Linked DNA regions of Homo sapiens. The protein of the gene in region 1 interacts with the protein of each later gene in a biochemical or structural test. Each region holds a gene or a part of one and is shown in the gene's direction. Other genes may lie near its edges.

Evidence for each region.
Region 2: the proteins of GIPC3 (region 1) and ARHGEF16 interact in a test that uses a peptide from one of them, tested with the Homo sapiens proteins (one large-scale study listed by IntAct).
Region 3: the proteins of GIPC3 (region 1) and ABCC4 interact in a test that uses a peptide from one of them, tested with the Homo sapiens proteins (one large-scale study listed by IntAct).

What each region holds. Positions count from the first base shown.
Region 1 is NC_000019.10:3,583,974-3,587,724, forward strand, and holds the start of GIPC3 (PDZ domain-containing protein GIPC3), read left to right. Parts: upstream 1-1,504; 5' UTR 1,505-1,624; coding exon 1,625-1,849; intron 1,850-2,521; coding exon 2,522-2,707; intron 2,708-2,840; coding exon 2,841-3,021; intron 3,022-3,751.
Region 2 is NC_000001.11:3,478,591-3,481,690, forward strand, and holds the end of ARHGEF16 (rho guanine nucleotide exchange factor 16), read left to right. Parts: coding exon 1-22; intron 23-926; coding exon 927-1,000; intron 1,001-1,221; coding exon 1,222-1,323; intron 1,324-1,857; coding exon 1,858-1,997; 3' UTR 1,998-2,523; downstream 2,524-3,100. UniProt on the Homo sapiens protein: Guanyl-nucleotide exchange factor of the RHOG GTPase stimulating the exchange of RHOG-associated GDP for GTP. May play a role in chemotactic cell migration by mediating the activation of RAC1 by EPHA2.
Region 3 is NC_000013.11:95,019,248-95,022,457, reverse strand, and holds the end of ABCC4 (ATP-binding cassette sub-family C member 4), read left to right. Parts: intron 1-775; coding exon 776-883; 3' UTR 884-2,623; downstream 2,624-3,210. UniProt on the Homo sapiens protein: ATP-dependent transporter of the ATP-binding cassette (ABC) family that actively extrudes physiological compounds and xenobiotics from cells.

The sequences.
Region 1 (3,751 bases):
AATCAGGAGGCTGAGGCAGAAGAATCGCTTGAACCCGGGAGGCAGAGGTTGCAGTGAGCCGAGATCGTGCCACTGCACTCCAGCCTTGGCAAGAGAGAGAGACTCCGTCTCAAAAAATAAAATAAAATAAAATATCTGATATGTCAGATGGTAGCTTTAAATGCTGAAGAGAAGCTGGGCACAGTGGCTCACATCTGTAATCCTAGCACTTTGGGAGGCCAAGGCTGAAGGATGGCCTGAACCTCCTGGTCTTGAGTTTGAGACCAGCCTGGGCAACACAGTGAGATCCCAACTGTACAAAAAATTAATCATGTTTCTAAATTAAATTTTAAAAAACTGAATGCGGCCGGGTGCGGTGGTTCACGCCTGTAATCCCAGCACTTTGGGAGGCCAAGGCAGGTGGATCACCTGAGGTCAGGGGTTCGAGACAAGCCTGACCAACATGGTGAAACCCTGTCTCTACTAAAAAATACAAAAATTAGCCAGGCATGGTGGTGTGCGCCTATAATCCCAGCTACTAGGGGGGCTGAGGCAGGAGAATCGCTTGAACCCAGGAGGTGGAGGTTGCAGTGAGCCGAGATCACGCCATTGCACTCCAGCCTGGGCGACAGAGCTAGACTCCGTCTCCAAAATCAAACAAACAAACCAAAGGCTGGGCGTGGTGGCTCATGCCTGTAATCCCAGCTTTTTTGGAGGCTAAGGTGGGTGGATTCCTGAGGTCAGGAGTTCAAGACCATCCTGGCCAACATGGTGAAACCTCATCTCTATTAAAAATACAAAAAAATTAGCCGGGCATGGTGGTATATGCCTGTAATCCCAGCTACTGGGGAGGCCGAGGCATGAGAATTGCTTGAACCTGGTGGGCAGAGGTTGCAGTGAGCTGAGATCGTGCCACTGAACTCCAAACTGGGTGACAGAGCGAGACTCCAGCTCAAAATAAATAAATAAATAAAAATAATAAAATAAAATAAAACAATGACCTCGCCTAGCAGAGGGTGAGTGCTCCAGCACCCTCAGCTGTCCCTGTCCTTTTTTTTTTTTTTTTTTTTTTTTTTGCGACGGAGTCTCGCTTTGTTGCCCAGGCTGGAGTGTAATGGCGCCATCTCAGCTCACTGCCACCTCCGCCTCCCGGGTTCAAGAGATCTCAGCCTCCCGAGTAGCTGGGATTACAGGCGCCCGCCACCACGTCCGGCTGATTTTTGTATTTTTGGTAGAGACGGGGTTTCACCATGTTGGCCAGGCTAGTCTTGAACTCCTGACCTCAGGTCATCTGCCCGCTTCGGCCTCCCAAAGTGCTGGAATTACAGACGTGAGCCACCGCTCCAGGCCTGTCCCTGTCCTTATTTGTGGTCCCTGTTCTTCCAGGGTCCTGAGCTCAGGCCCCCCCGGACTGCGGGTATCCCCGGGGAGGGCACAGCTGGCCCTGGCAGGGCCCGGACACCTGGGGCCCGACCCACCCCTGCGCACCCCGCGGTGTCGCCTTCCCGGGAGGCTCGGGTTCCCAGATCCCCTTACCCGGGCGTCTCGGCTGTCGCGCCCTGGGCCGGGGGAGGGGAGGCTGCAGGAAGCGGCGGATCCGGCGGCGGCGGCGAGGGCCCGGGTGGGTGGCCGAACTTCTCCCGCCATGGAGGGAGCAGCGGCCCGGGAGGCCCGGGGGACCGAGACCCCGCGCGCGTCTGCGCCCCCGCCCGCGCCCTCGGAGCCCCCGGCCGCGCCCCGCGCCCGCCCGCGCCTCGTCTTCCGCACGCAGCTGGCGCACGGGAGCCCCACGGGCAAGATCGAGGGCTTCACCAACGTCCGCGAGCTGTACGCCAAGATCGCCGAAGCCTTCGGGATCGCGCCCACCGAGGTAAGGAGCCCGGACACCGGCGCCCAAGACCACCCGCCTGATGGGGTGAGGGGTAGGGAGCTTGGACCCTGGACGGGAGACCCCAGATCCCCGGATCCCAGACGTCGGGGTGGCCGCCTAATCGCCGGATCTCAGAGACCCAGCCCTCAGATCCCGGGGTGCCACACTCCCAGGGGCCCCCTTTGCACGCTCTGCGCAAAAGATGGGCAGGTCTTAGGACTAGCGGACCCCTAGATATTCCAGAAAATCCTCTGCGCAGACCTAGCTTGGAGCGGACCCCAGCCCTCGGGGAAGCGCCTCTGTGCTTCCTGGGCGTAGCTGGGGTCTGGGGTTCCAGATGGCCCCCTTAGGGATGGGAAGTTTGAGGCCGCCGTGGGGTTGGGGGGTTCCTGGGCGTTTTTCCAATCCGGGTTCGTTTGGTTTGCAGCCCCCAGGGGGCGCCAGCAGATTAAACCTGGAGGTCTGGGGGCTGGAGGTCCCGGGGTATGGAGAGGGGTCTCCACCTGCTGGAAGTCTCCTTCTCCCTCCTCTCTCTGTTCTGGGGGTCCCACGCCCTGCCCTTTCCCATGGGCTGGGATCCTGGTCGCTGGGGGCAGGGGCCTGCGCAGACAGGGTGGCTGCGTGGGGGGATGCATGCCCTGGCTAACTCTAGGCTCCTTCTCCCCCGGGAAGATTTTATTCTGCACCCTCAACAGCCACAAAGTGGACATGCAGAAGCTCCTGGGGGGTCAGATAGGCCTGGAGGACTTCATCTTTGCCCACGTGCGAGGCGAGACCAAGGAGGTGGAGGTCACTAAGACAGAGGATGCTCTGGGGCTGACCATCACGGACAACGGGGCTGGCTACGCCTTCATCAAGGTGCCCGGGAGGGGGTGGGCGGGTGGCTTCCTGGGGTCCAGCAACTGCCCCCCCCACTCTGGGTCGACGTGGGTTCTGCGGATTGGAGGCGGGTGGCTGGGGTTGCCCTGCCAGCGACGCTGGATCCCTGCAGAGAATCAAGGAAGGCAGTATCATCAACCGGATCGAGGCAGTGTGCGTGGGTGACAGCATCGAAGCCATCAACGACCACTCCATTGTGGGCTGCCGCCACTACGAGGTGGCCAAGATGCTCCGGGAGCTGCCCAAGTCCCAGCCCTTCACCCTGCGCCTGGTGCAGCCCAAGAGGGCCTTCGGTGAGGCGGGTGGGCTGGCGGGAGCTCTTCCCGAAGTGCGTTCTACGGATGCCTGGGGTGGAGGAGGGTCGGGGATGGGACGGGCTGGAAGGTTCTAGGTGCACCCGCTGCGTGCCAAGGAGCTCCTGGCAGGGTATCAGAAACTCGTAGGTAGTTTCTATTAATAGATTGTTATGGAGTCAGCCTGTGGGGGAGGGGTGGGGGAGAGACTGGGTAAAGTGGAGTTGGAGGAGGACGCGTCCAGAACCACTTTGGAGCCAGGCTGGGAGACTTGTTTTTGTTTGTTTGTTTGTTTGTTTGTTTTTGAGACGGAGTCTCACTCTGTTGCCTGGGCTGGAGTGCAATGGCGCGATCTCAGCTCACTGCAATCTCCACCTCCCGGGTTCAAGCGATTCTCCTGCCTCAGCCTCCCGAGTAGCTGGGACTACAGGCACCCACCATTGCGCCTGGCTAATTTTTGTATTTTTAGTAGAGACGGGGTTTCACCATCTTGACCAGTCTGGTCTCGAACTTCTGACCTCAAGTGCTCCACCCGCCTCAGTCTCCCAAAATGCTAGGATTATAGGCGTGAGCCACCGCGCGCAGCCTGGGAACTTTTAAAGCAGTGCTTTGAGGTCATGGTGGATTGTAGAGAATGAGAATATGAGAAAAAAGTTTTCTTTCTTTTCTTTTTTTTTTCCTTTCTTTTTTCTTTTCTTTTCTTTTTTTTTTTTTGAGACGGAGTCTAGCT
Region 2 (3,100 bases), on another chromosome or scaffold:
TCCTGCTCTCCTCGGACTCCGCGTAAGTGGGCTCCCGGGAGGGCTGTTCCCAGGCCACAGGCACATTAGCTCCATGGGGACCGGGTTGTCCCCCTGCCTTGCTCGCTGTTGCATGGCTGGCTCTGAACGCCCACCGTGCACCTGGCCCTGCTGTAGGTGCTGAGGTAGAGCCAGAAACAACAGAAATGGCCTTGTCCTCATGGAGTTTATGTTCCCGGGAGGGGACGCACCAACAGTTGGGCCACCAGGAGTGGGAACAAGGGAGGAAACGAGGTGGGGGGTGGGGTGCGGGGGGTGCCGTGAGGAAAGCTTAGCCCATGTGAGCAGAGGGAGGTGGGGCCGGAGTGTGGGGTTGCTCAGCAGAGGCCCCGAGGCAGGAGAGCCCTGAGGCCCCGAGGGCACAGCTGCAGGTGGACAGCAGTGATGCTGGGGTGCAGCGACCCTGGCCGGTAGGGGCCAGTTCAGACAGCAGGGTGGTCCTGGCACTCAGAATGGGAGGGGGCACTGATGGAGTCTCTGCGGGCCCCCCGTGGAAGCCAGGCACACAGGTGCGCCAGTCTCCATATTCCCTCTCAGCTCGTCTTGACTGAGGACAGCTCTGGGCCGTTTCCAGATGAGGATGCTGAGGCTGAGTCTGTCACAGCAAACGGAGGGGGCAGGGAGCTGGGGCCCAGTGCCAGGAAACGGGGTGGCCTCAGGTCCAGCAGGCTGGGGTCTGGGTGTGTGGCCACTACCCAACTCTGTGACCTGGGGCTGGGGTGACTTGGGGGTTAGCCTGCCTGGCACAGTCTGCCCAGCCACTCCTGCCCACCCCCACCACCCCCATCTCCTTGCCACGGCCCCCATGGGTGGCTGTCAGAAGTCAAGGAACATCAGACGGGCAGGATCGGTCTCCAGGCCTGGCTCATGCTGTCTCTGGTCCCCAGGAGTGACCGGGCACGGTGGATCGTGGCGCTCACACACAGTGAGAGACAGTGGCAGGGCCTCTCCAGCAAAGGAGGTGAGTGCGGGCTGGGGCCTGCAGGGCTGGCCCTCTGCCGTGGCTGGCACTTTGGCCCCCACTGTAGCCCAAGTGAGCCTGGCACCTGGCCTTGTGCTGGGGCCTGGCAGTCGGGGGATGGGGTGCCCCGGCCCCGGGGGATGTGTCTGCTGGAGGCCGTTGGGGAGTGGAGCCTGGCCCATGCCTCCCGACAGCCCTGTGATGGCCACTGCCCTATGCAGACCTGCCCCAGGTGGAGATCACCAAGGCCTTCTTCGCGAAGCAAGCAGACGAGGTCACACTGCAGCAGGCGGACGTGGTCCTGGTTCTGCAGCAGGAGGATGGTGAGTGCAGGGGCGTTGGGCACAGATGGGTGGGAACGGACAGGCGGGCGTGAGTCAGCGTCCAGCCTGGCCAGGTCCAGAGCATGCCGGGCTGCAGGCTGACCATGTGCTCACCCTCTCTCGAGGGCTTCCTCAAAGGGAGCACTCCCACATCCCCAAACCTCAGAATCAAAAGCAGGTTCATGGTCACTGTGTCCCACGTGGGGAGGAGGAGGTGTCTCTGCCCTCCCAGGGGATCCCCGCTCAGCCAGGCCCAGCACGAGCCTGCAGAGGGCAGGCAGGGCTCCTCCTCATGCCGGGCAGCGCTGTGTGGGGTGTGCTCAGCCCAGCACCCTTCTCAGTGGCGAGCACCTGAGCAGGGGCTGGGTGCCCGGTGACCATGAGCAAGGCCTCAGCAGCTGTCTGCTCTGAGCAGGAGCAGGTGGTCAGTTCTAGGAGAAGCCTGGCCCTGGTGTGCTCAGGCATAGCAGCTCAGAGGGGCCGGGGGACCCACGGCCTTCCCCTCACCTCCCTCCCACCCCTATCCGGGTTCAGGGTGGCTCTATGGCGAGAGGCTCCGGGACGGAGAGACGGGATGGTTCCCCGAGGACTTTGCCCGCTTCATCACCAGCCGTGTGGCCGTGGAGGGCAATGTCCGCAGGATGGAGCGTCTGCGGGTGGAGACGGACGTGTAGCCCTGGCGAGGCCAGCCGGCGGCAGCACAGCCTGTCTCCAATCAGCAAGTGGTCGTGCCTGGCTCTAGAGAGCGTGGGGAGCTGGTCTCAAGGACCCAGCATGGTTCCCTGGGGCTTCCCAAGAGCCTGTGGCTGTGGTGCCGGGCTCCAGACACTTCACGGAAGGAAGATCACATGTCCCCAGAGAGGCACCCCCAGGCAAGCTCGAGGGGGCCACACCGTGTCCCAGGGAGCCCAGCCTATTCCCGTTGGCTGGCTGGGCCCCTCAGCTGCTGGGCCCCACCTCCCCACTGCACCCAGGGGGCAACTCCACCTGGACTGATGGGCACAGGAGGCACCAATAGCGATTATTGGGGGCAATGCGAGGTCTCCTCCTATGCCCTTCCTACCCCTGAGTGGGACAAGAAGGGCCCTGAGTGCCCAGGAGTGCCCCACGTTCTGAGAAGGGGCCGGCCGGAGGGAGGGGACCCGGCAGGGAGATTTCGGTTTTGAGGTTTCTAAATACATTAAAGTTATTTCTTAAGAACCTGGATTTTCACAGTGACTCTGAGCCCAGGCAAAGACCGTGGCCACACATTTTCCAGGGACATACTCAGGATGCCGCGGGCCGGCACCAGGCCCCCTGTGCATGGCCCCCTTGTGTTGGGTGCCGTGTCATGTGTGGTCGCCCCAAGCTCGCCCCTGGTGTGGCCAGTCTGCCCACCGGCTGGAGCACTGGAGCAGGGCCAGCGGCCCCTGATCGTGTACTGAGAAGCCAGGGGCGGCACAGCTGCGCCTTGCAGGGCCCAGGCTGGCCAGTGGTTTAGAGGACTCCGGGATTCAGTAGAGCTTTTGGGGATCCCTCTGCAGTGTCCCCAGGGTTGGAGACAGGCCCCACCTCCCTCCCAGTTTTTCCTCCCAGCCATCTCGTCCTGGGAGCTGCAGGCAGAAGAGGCAGTCCCTGAGCCAGTCGGCTGACCTGGGGTGGCACAGCAAGAGGAGGACTGGTCCTCTCTGTCCCAGGAAGCCCCCACCAGCCCTCCTGTGTCCGACGCCAATGCCCGTTGCCTTTGTGGGCTTGGGTAATGCTGTCCTCAGGGAGGGAGCACCCAGCATACACCTGA
Region 3 (3,210 bases), on another chromosome or scaffold:
TGTGGAACAGAGAAACTTGACAGCATTTCATTTCCTTTATGTTCTGATTATACGTTTATCAGAAAACCTGTATCTCTTCTAGTTCAGCTAGAAATTGGTAGAATTCAGGAACTCAAAGGCTTGGCAAAGAACTGTCCTATTATTTGGTATCATCTTACATTTTAGAGAAGTTGCTTGGTTGAGTCATTGTTAAAGCTTTTGCTTCTCTTTTCATTATTGTGGGCCACTATCCACAGACCACATTTCTATAGGCCCTATAACTGCTTTGCCGCACAAATTAAACGCCGGGATGTTTCATACGTATATGCCAGCATTTCAATGCTTGTCAATCAGAGTTTATAAAATATAGGGATTACAACTTGATATTAACATCCAAATCTATTGTGCTCATTTTACGTGTGAAAATGAGAAACCCTCATGCAGACGCTAGATTTCCCAGCCTCTTTGTCACCCTGTTTTTAATTTATCTCCAGGTTTTGAGTCAGTAAAATGATTCCGCTTATCAATTTAATACAGAGATAAAACATATCTATGAATCAGAGTGATCGGAACTAAAATGGATCTACAGGTTGTTTGGCATTCAGCCCAGCCCTGCTGAGGGTTTTAGTGGGGCTAATTTCTCTGTACAGTAGATTCATCCCTGTTCTTAAATTGTGCCTCAGTGAGGGATATGATTTGCTTCACATGAAGAAGTAGACACAGAAGTGCATTGTTTCAGGGAGGAGACTTTAAAATTTTGAAACATTCTTTTTATGCTTACCTTTTTTTTTTCTAGGTATACTTCAAAAGAAATTATCCACATATTGGTCACACTGACCACATGGTTACAAACACTTCCAATGGACAGCCCTCGACCTTAACTATTTTCGAGACAGCACTGTGAATCCAACCAAAATGTCAAGTCCGTTCCGAAGGCATTTTCCACTAGTTTTTGGACTATGTAAACCACATTGTACTTTTTTTTACTTTGGCAACAAATATTTATACATACAAGATGCTAGTTCATTTGAATATTTCTCCCAACTTATCCAAGGATCTCCAGCTCTAACAAAATGGTTTATTTTTATTTAAATGTCAATAGTTGTTTTTTAAAATCCAAATCAGAGGTGCAGGCCACCAGTTAAATGCCGTCTATCAGGTTTTGTGCCTTAAGAGACTACAGAGTCAAAGCTCATTTTTAAAGGAGTAGGACAAAGTTGTCACAGGTTTTTGTTGTTGTTTTTATTGCCCCCAAAATTACATGTTAATTTCCATTTATATCAGGGATTCTATTTACTTGAAGACTGTGAAGTTGCCATTTTGTCTCATTGTTTTCTTTGACATAACTAGGATCCATTATTTCCCCTGAAGGCTTCTTGTTAGAAAATAGTACAGTTACAACCAATAGGAACAACAAAAAGAAAAAGTTTGTGACATTGTAGTAGGGAGTGTGTACCCCTTACTCCCCATCAAAAAAAAAAATGGATACATGGTTAAAGGATAGAAGGGCAATATTTTATCATATGTTCTAAAAGAGAAGGAAGAGAAAATACTACTTTCTCAAAATGGAAGCCCTTAAAGGTGCTTTGATACTGAAGGACACAAATGTGACCGTCCATCCTCCTTTAGAGTTGCATGACTTGGACACGGTAACTGTTGCAGTTTTAGACTCAGCATTGTGACACTTCCCAAGAAGGCCAAACCTCTAACCGACATTCCTGAAATACGTGGCATTATTCTTTTTTGGATTTCTCATTTATGGAAGGCTAACCCTCTGTTGACTGTAAGCCTTTTGGTTTGGGCTGTATTGAAATCCTTTCTAAATTGCATGAATAGGCTCTGCTAACGTGATGAGACAAACTGAAAATTATTGCAAGCATTGACTATAATTATGCAGTACGTTCTCAGGATGCATCCAGGGGTTCATTTTCATGAGCCTGTCCAGGTTAGTTTACTCCTGACCACTAATAGCATTGTCATTTGGGCTTTCTGTTGAATGAATCAACAAACCACAATACTTCCTGGGACCTTTTGTACTTTATTTGAACTATGAGTCTTTAATTTTTCCTGATGATGGTGGCTGTAATATGTTGAGTTCAGTTTACTAAAGGTTTTACTATTATGGTTTGAAGTGGAGTCTCATGACCTCTCAGAATAAGGTGTCACCTCCCTGAAATTGCATATATGTATATAGACATGCACACGTGTGCATTTGTTTGTATACATATATTTGTCCTTCGTATAGCAAGTTTTTTGCTCATCAGCAGAGAGCAACAGATGTTTTATTGAGTGAAGCCTTAAAAAGCACACACCACACACAGCTAACTGCCAAAATACATTGACCGTAGTAGCTGTTCAACTCCTAGTACTTAGAAATACACGTATGGTTAATGTTCAGTCCAACAAACCACACACAGTAAATGTTTATTAATAGTCATGGTTCGTATTTTAGGTGACTGAAATTGCATCAGTGATCATAATGAGGTTTGTTAAAACGATAGCTATATTCAAAATGTCTATATGTTTATTTGGACTTTTGAGGTTAAAGACAGTCATATAAACGTCCTGTTTCTGTTTTAATGTTATCATAGAATTTTTTAATGAAACTAAATTCAATTGAAATAAATGATAGTTTTCATCTCCATTCAGAGATCTGTATTTCTGTGCTTCAAGGGATTCCTGACTCATGTTCTTGCTGATGAATGCCAGTGAGTTTTCCTGAGATCGAAAAATACAGTATCAAAGGATACCTTCTATCATCAACCGGTTCTCTTGGCAAATTAGGTGTACCAAGTATTCTAACGGGTAGATTTCAGTGGGTTTCAGACAGTTTGAAGCAGTTGCTATTTAAGCAAGTCCATTTGCACCATTCTAGGAAGAAAGAGTATTAGCTTATGCCTCAGGCTTGAGCAGTATTAAATGGTTGAGGTTTTTGCTTTTGGTTTTGGTTTTTAAGGTGACTTTGTCCAAAACTAACAAGAAACATCTACCGCTGTTACGCTGAAATCACTATTAAATAATGATTCTCAAAGTGTGGTCCCTGGACCAGCAGCATACCGCATCACCTGGGAACTCGTTAGAAATGCACCTTTTTGTGCCTCACCGCAGATCTACTGAATCAGAAACTCTGGTGGTGGGGGCCAGGAATGTGTGTTTTAACAAGCCATAGGGTGACTTTTTTTAAGGGGCCATGCTAATCTCTGTATCATTACAATTTTAGTATATGTGCTA